Linked DNA regions of Homo sapiens. The protein of the gene in region 1 interacts with the protein of each later gene in a biochemical or structural test. Each region holds a gene or a part of one and is shown on either strand. Other genes may lie near its edges.

Region 1 (3,500 bases):
CTTTATGTGGGGAGCACATGGGGCCTCCCTCCACAGCCTACCCCTGCCTTGATGGGGCCCCTGTTAGCCTGGACAGAGGAAGGAAAGAGGGCCTGGAGGAGGCTCAGTGCTCAGCCTGGTGTCTGGCTGTCCCCACAGGGAGCAGAGAGACCCCATCTACCTGAGGGACAAGGTGACTCAGAGGCATTCCAAAGAGCAGTTTGAGGCGGCGCAGAAGCTTGAGCAGGAGTACAGCAGGTACTTCACAGGTAGGTGTGCGTGGGCCTGGAGTGGGGAGCAGGCAGCAGGGAAGGAAGCAGAGGCTTCCTAAGGCTGTTTTCTTAGCCGTGGAGAAGCCCGCACTTTCTACATGCTCCCAAGTGCTGTCATGAGCACGTTCCTGACAAGTCAGGTGTTCAGATTGCAGTCCCTGGCCAACGTCAGGATTCTTACAGGTTGAATGTTAAGCTCACCGATCTTGGCCTCAGGTCCTGCCTGGCTTGCCTGCTCATTTTCACACGTGCAGTGGTGGGTCTGTCTCATAGCACAGGTGCAGTTTAGTGCAGCCACAGTGTCCCCAGGCAGGGCGGGGACTGGAGCAGCCCCCAGTGTGCCAGCAGTGTGGGCAGCGGAGGCTAGGGGCCCATCTGTCCCTAGCACCCTCCAGGGCAGTCCCGTTTTGCAGCGGGATTTGGCAAACCCCCCTCCAAAAAAAAAAAAACAAAAAACAAAACAAAAAAAAACAATGCTGTCCCCTTACCATCTCTGGTCTTCAAAGTGAAACAAACTCAGTGAAGTTTGGTTCTATTTTACCTTCTGGCCTTCAGCCTCTTTGGGAAAGTCTGTCATTTGCAGGGCATTAGCATTTGCAGTCACAGAGGATGGGACAGGGATTCTAACTGCATTGTGGAGAGTGTTATGATCTAGTCCAGGGACCTGGGCTTGGTGCCCATGTGTGTGTAGGTATGTGCAGGTGTGCATGCCTCTGTGTGTGTGTGTGTGTGGGTGTGTGTGTGAACTTTCATTTCCAATTCCTCACAGACTGGTATTTAGCCAAATACACTGACAATTCCTAGAGAGATGAAAATTTAAAACTCTAAGTCTTGCAAAAGGTAAGCTCTATTTTTTTCTTGTTAGATTCAACAGACATAAAATTACGACGTCCTGTTTCCATAGCAGTTTCTAGACACTCACTGTCAATTTCTGAGCATGCCTTGTTGCAGTAGGGGCTTGGTTTGTGTCCAGGTGCTGTTATGTGGAGCACACTGGAGTACCCCTGGCCTGGTGTCTATAGACCCCTTTGTCAAACTCCTATAGTACAGGGCTGGCCCAAGTTGGCGCCATCATCTTTCTGTGACTCTCCTCTTGGCCATGAGCTATCTGGCTCCTTAAACTTGTCGTTTCCTGCAGAATCCTGCTAATGATTAGACCACCGCCACATGTCCTCCAAACTTCCTTCTGATGCCCTGGGATTCCCCCAACCATTGCAAACCCAACCCAGGGTGTTAACTGCAGTGGGGTGGGCAGTTTACATATGAGTGATCAACTCAAGAGGGGCAATTTTCTTTCCCAGTTTCTTGCTGGTGAAGGAGAGTCAGGTGGGGATGGAGCAGAGTGCCAAGGAGCACAAAGCAGACAGCCACACAGTAGAAAGAGTGCAAGCTGTACTGCCTTGCCTCAAACCTGGGGTCTTACTCTGAGCTGAATGACGTGTCTGGGGGGCTCTTTTGCAGGGGTCATCCAGGGAGGAGCCCTGTCAAGCATTTGCACTCAGATCTTGGCAATGGTCAATCAAGAACAAAATAAAGTCCTGTGGATTCCAGCCTGCCCGCTCTAGGAGAATGCTGTGCTGTGGATGACTGCAGCTGGCCGCCTGAGGGGACACCAGACTCAGCTCTTTTCTAGCGACTGAAAGTAGAAGTCTGTCCGTCTATGAACATGCGGGGGAAGGATCCGGAACCAGGACCCAGAAGCACCTCCTTTGTAGACAGAGGGCCACGGCTGCGTGCGATCCAGGCCCAGGCCCACACACTCTGCCCGTGTCACACGTGTGCTTTAACACAAAACAGATAACACTAAAGACGGGTTCAGCACCCACCTTTCTTTAGCCAGCTGATCAGAGATGCTGCAAAGAGAACCTTTCGGATCACTCGTTTACAAGCCTTTTCTAAGTATTTGGTGGTTTATGTTTACTTGAACGGCTCCATGTTGCCGGTGCCCAGCCCCTGTCCCCTCTGTCAACCCCCTGTCGCTTTGGTGTTGGTTTCGTTCCCGTCTTCAGCAAAACGACCTTGGAACCTCAATGGGGGCTGCTTTGCTTTGGGAGGTTCTTGTTGGTGGGACCAGAGCTTTGACAAACCTCCTGCTCCTTGGTGGCACCTCTCCTGGAAGGACGTCACAACTCCAGGTGCTCAGACTGCCTGTGGCAGCAGAACCAGTGCCTTTGGCATTTTCCTCCCACAATGGGGAAGGTGACTTTGGCATTCTTACAAACTCGTCTCTCGGCCTTTCTCTCCTGCCTTCCACAGCCTCTCGTTTCTCCTCCATCTGTGCTTATTACTTGAGGACTGTGTCTGCTCCGTGAGAGCTGCGTGGGCAGGGCTGCAGTGGGGTCCAGGTGGTGTTCAGCTGTGCTGATGCCTGCCATTGGGTCCTCCTTAGGCTCTGTAAGTCGTGACAGCCTTCATCAGTGCAATGTTTGCAGGGTAATTCTTAAACTTTTTAGAGGGTGGCAGGTACATCAGTTCTTTTTGATATGAAAACATTCATGTTTCAGACATTGAATTGAGAGCTTTTAGGGGAAGCATAATGGTTATTGTCACTATCAACAGTCTAAAAAGAAAAACTGAGGTCTTTTTAATCTTGATTACAGCACTCACGGCATGCACCCTACTCAGTGTGGGTGTCTTCGTTTGGGGGCTTTTTTTTTTTTTGCACTTCTGAGGCTAGATATGTCTGGCTGAAGATTTGATGTGGTTCCTCCTTAAGCTATGCGTCCTGTTAATAATAGGTACTGTACTGGGCTCTGTGTAAGTGTCGTTGGGGTAGGACCTATATTTTAATACTGTTCCTAACATTTCATTTTACTAGCGAGAAATCTTTGATTTCATTTTATTCTTTGTAATTCTAGACACTAGATTGTAGTTTAGCCATAACTGATGTTTTTTAAAAAGGGATATATTTTCTTGCACAGTTGTTCAAAAAAGAGACAAGTTTCAGTCCTCAATGCTGTCCTTTGTTTTACAGGTACAAGTTTTCTAGCTCAGACAAACTATGAAAAACTGTAGACTATTCTCAAGGTATTAACTCGCAGACCCTCTGGGGGTAGGGGCTGTTTTCTAAGTTACAGGCAGAGTGGGACTGAGATGGTACAGTGTGCACAGACAGGTACTGAGCTGACAGACTGGGATTTTCTGTACTAAAATGTTACTTTGTATCAAAAGTTAAACAGGCTTTAGTACAACAAATAAAGGTCAATTTCTGTAAGGCTGTGTTTGAAGATGTGAGTTTTTAATCTCTTC
Region 2 (3,500 bases), on another chromosome or scaffold:
TGAATATTTGACTTTGAAAAAATATCTTAACGACATGGGGCAAAAAGTGCAATCTAAATGGTAGCCTTTACTAATGTGTGTGGAAAGAGGTGTTCCTCATTATCTAATATTTCAATGTGTTAAGAGTTTAATTTTTTTGTTATCATTAAAAAAGACAGGATTATAAAGAGATATCAAAGCACGATTTTAGATAACCTAAACGGCCCAGCCTATACGAAGTTGATTATATCTCGATGTCTGTAAAAGATTGCTGTTCTTGGAGTCTTGAGGTCTTGTGAATTGATTTCCTGCTTTCTTTCATTTTTTTCAATTTAAGTAATAATACATTTGTTATATTCCTTTCAGTGTAAGTTTCTATTTGGACAATTTTATGGGAACATGTGCATTCTCTATGTGAGCTTCTATCATATTCCTGTTTTATTAGCAGAACCTAAAGGAATTTATTTAATGATGTTGTGACATTACTGCTTTTTCTTTTTTCTTTTCTTAGTTCATATTTGCATTTTCGTTCAAGGATATGCTTAGCAATAAAATGTTCTTCCCAAAACCTTGTATGCTGATGCACTTTTATTTTCTTAACATTTGAGAAAATCTCGCACTGAAGCTAATTATGTCATATCTTATTAAAAGCCGAGTAAGAGCTAGACCACTTTCATGTGATAGAAGATATTCTAAGCAGTTACTAATTATTACATTATCAAAATGCCATATTTATGAGATAATTATCTGTTACTTGAGGCATTATTTTTTAGATTGCTATGATAGAATAACCAGGAGGGAGTGCATTTTTCTGGAAAGATGATAGAAACATTGTATTCTAGAAAAGATTATTGGATACTATGGTTTTGTTTGTTTGTTTTTGTTTTTTGTTTTTCGTTTTTTGTTTGTTTTTTTTTTGAGACAGAGTCTCGCTCTGTCGCCCGGGCTGGAGTGCAGTGGCACGATCTCGGCTCACTGCAAGCTCCGCCTCCCGGGTTCACACCATTCTCCTGCCTCAGCCCCCCGAGTAGGTGGGACTACAGGTGCCCGCCACCACGCCCGGCTAATTTTTTGTATTTTTCGTAGAGACGGGGTTTCACCGTGTTAGCCGGGATGGTCTCGATCTCCTGACCTCGTAATCCACCCGCCTCGGCCTCCCAAAGTGCTGGGATTACAGGCGTGAGCCACCGCGCCCGGCTTGGATACTATGTTTTTTAAAGGCATTTCGTACCTTTTACGTATTTTCTATAAGTCAACAAGCTTTAAACAGTATTTAAAACTATGTTCACATAGTGCCATAAGCACTAGAAAGTCTTAGATGTCTTCTTTCCAAGCCTCCCACCATATTAAAATTTAAAATTAAAAAACAGAATCCAAAACCAAAATTTAAATGAGTTCTTCAATTTTAACAGCTTCTTACAAGAATTTCTGATTACAACTTGTTTCATACACCCATTGTAGCAGTAATGTCTCATATTTCTCGTTCTCTCAGCACACACTTACTTGGCCAATTGGATAATCCATCTACCCTTTGTTCTTCACTGTAATCTAGAAATATAGATTTAACTGAACAGCTGTCCTTTATCCATATGTTGGTTACCAGTTTTCAAAGAGTTAGAATTTTAAAAATATATATTTAGTTAAGCCTGTGCCTTCAAGATAACATTAGTGGAGTGGTTATACTATCGACTATGTTAGGAATGGGGGGGAGAAAGTCAGGTTCAGTGATGTCAAATTATGTAAAGTTTTTTTTTTGTTCCTGTCTTCAAAGTTCTGTATTAGATGTTCTCCCATCATTTTTTGAGATGGAGTCTTGCAGCCTACAGTGCAGTGGCATGATATTGGCTCACTGCAACCTCTGCCTCTCAACCTCAAACGATTCTCCTGCCTCAGCCTCCTGAGTAGCTGCGACTACAGGCATGGGCCACCACACCCAGCTCATTTTTTAATTTATTTTTTATTTTTTTAGTAAGGAAGGGTTTCACCATGTTGGCAAGGCTGGTCTCGAACTCCTTACTTCAAGTGATCCACCCACCTTGGCCTTGCAAAATGCTGGGATTATAGGTGTGAGCCACTCCTCCTGAAATCTTTCTAAATCTCACTAATATATAATTCTAGGACTACTTTAAGCATTCACTTTTTCTTTAATTCAAGAAACATTTATTGAACACTTATGTACAAGCTAGTCTACTATTGGCTATTGTTACTTTGTTTCAATGAAGGCAGAAAATGGCTAGAAGGATTTTAAGCCTTTTTGTCTCTTGTATAAATCTATACAGGTCCAGTCTCTCTTTGCTCATATTCAAATTGAAGTTTGATCTTTCTCCAAAAAATATCCAAGCCCTGTGTTTGTCCCAGTTGAACTAATATCTTGATTATATAGTTTAAGATCAGTTTGATAATGTCTATTGAATATTTACTAAATGATTATGGGATATTAAATTGAGAGCCTTGGGAGCTTATCATCTAGTAAAGATGAACAAAAAATGGTACTATAGTGAATGCAAATAAGCTATCAAAAAGTACAAACTAAGTTGGGAGCTTAGAAGAAATTATGTAAGGGAAGGCTTCATAGAAGGGGTGACATTTTGGTAAACCTTGGAAAACTGATAGGCAGAAATAAGGGCTGTATATCATTCTAAGCAAACCCTTAAAGTGGGAGCAAGCAGGATCAAAACCATAATTTGGATTGATGACAGACTGCAAAAAGTACATTGGAGGAAGATATGAGTAGGAAGGTTTTTGAAATCATGTCAATGAATGGGAAGAGAGAAATGGGAGAATAGCTTGAGAAGTTCAAGGTCAAGGGCTGCTTTGTCGAGTACAAAGGACTCGAGCATATTTGAAATGAAAGGTAATAACTGATCTACTCTTATGGAGCAACCGAGTTTCCTGATAGAGATGTTTATCTGGGGGAAAAAGGCATAAGTCAATCTTCTTGGAGAGAATGGGATCAGAAACTGACATATTGCTACAGAGGTTACAAAAGCTGTAGTCAGAGGGCTTCAGTGTTCTGGATATATTAAAGGACAAGGTCAGATACCCAAGTGGGACCGTGAGTGATTAATGGCAGCAGTCCACTGACAGCACCAGTAGGAAGGCGCTAATGAAAAGATCTCTAAATATCAGTAAGGGGTTAGCTGCCATTAATAATACAACTTTATAGCTTTACTATTTTTTCTTTTATTGTTGAAATAGTGAGGGCACGTATTTTTCTAATTGTGTTTATTACAAAGAAAACAGACCCGAAGAACTTAAATGACTTCTCCAAGGTCACACAGCTAATACATGACAATGTCATGACTTAAAATCCAGTCTTGTGGTTCCAAATTTAGAGCTCTTTCATAAACCTGTCTCTAGAGAAGCAAGTCATTTTCTACTTTTTCCAGAAGCATTTGAAGTGGAAGCTAAGGCAGGAAATGAGAGGATATTGTGTTAGTCTACTGGGATTACCCTGGCAAAATACCACAGGCTGGGTAGACAACTGAAATGTATTTCTCAGTTCCAGAAACAAAGTTGCA

What was found.
Region 2: the proteins of DLG5 (region 1) and NRXN3 interact in a test that uses a peptide from one of them, tested with the Homo sapiens proteins (one large-scale study listed by IntAct).

What each region holds. Positions count from the first base shown.
Region 1 is NC_000010.11:77,790,756-77,794,255, reverse strand, and holds the end of DLG5 (disks large homolog 5), read left to right. Parts: intron 1-138; coding exon 139-248; intron 249-1,712; coding exon 1,713-1,816; 3' UTR 1,817-3,465; downstream 3,466-3,500. UniProt on the Homo sapiens protein: Acts as a regulator of the Hippo signaling pathway.
Region 2 is NC_000014.9:79,863,873-79,867,372, forward strand, and holds part of NRXN3 (neurexin 3), read left to right. Parts: 3' UTR 1-3,500. UniProt on the Homo sapiens protein: Neuronal cell surface protein that may be involved in cell recognition and cell adhesion. May mediate intracellular signaling. Functions as part of a trans-synaptic complex by binding to cerebellins and postsynaptic GRID1.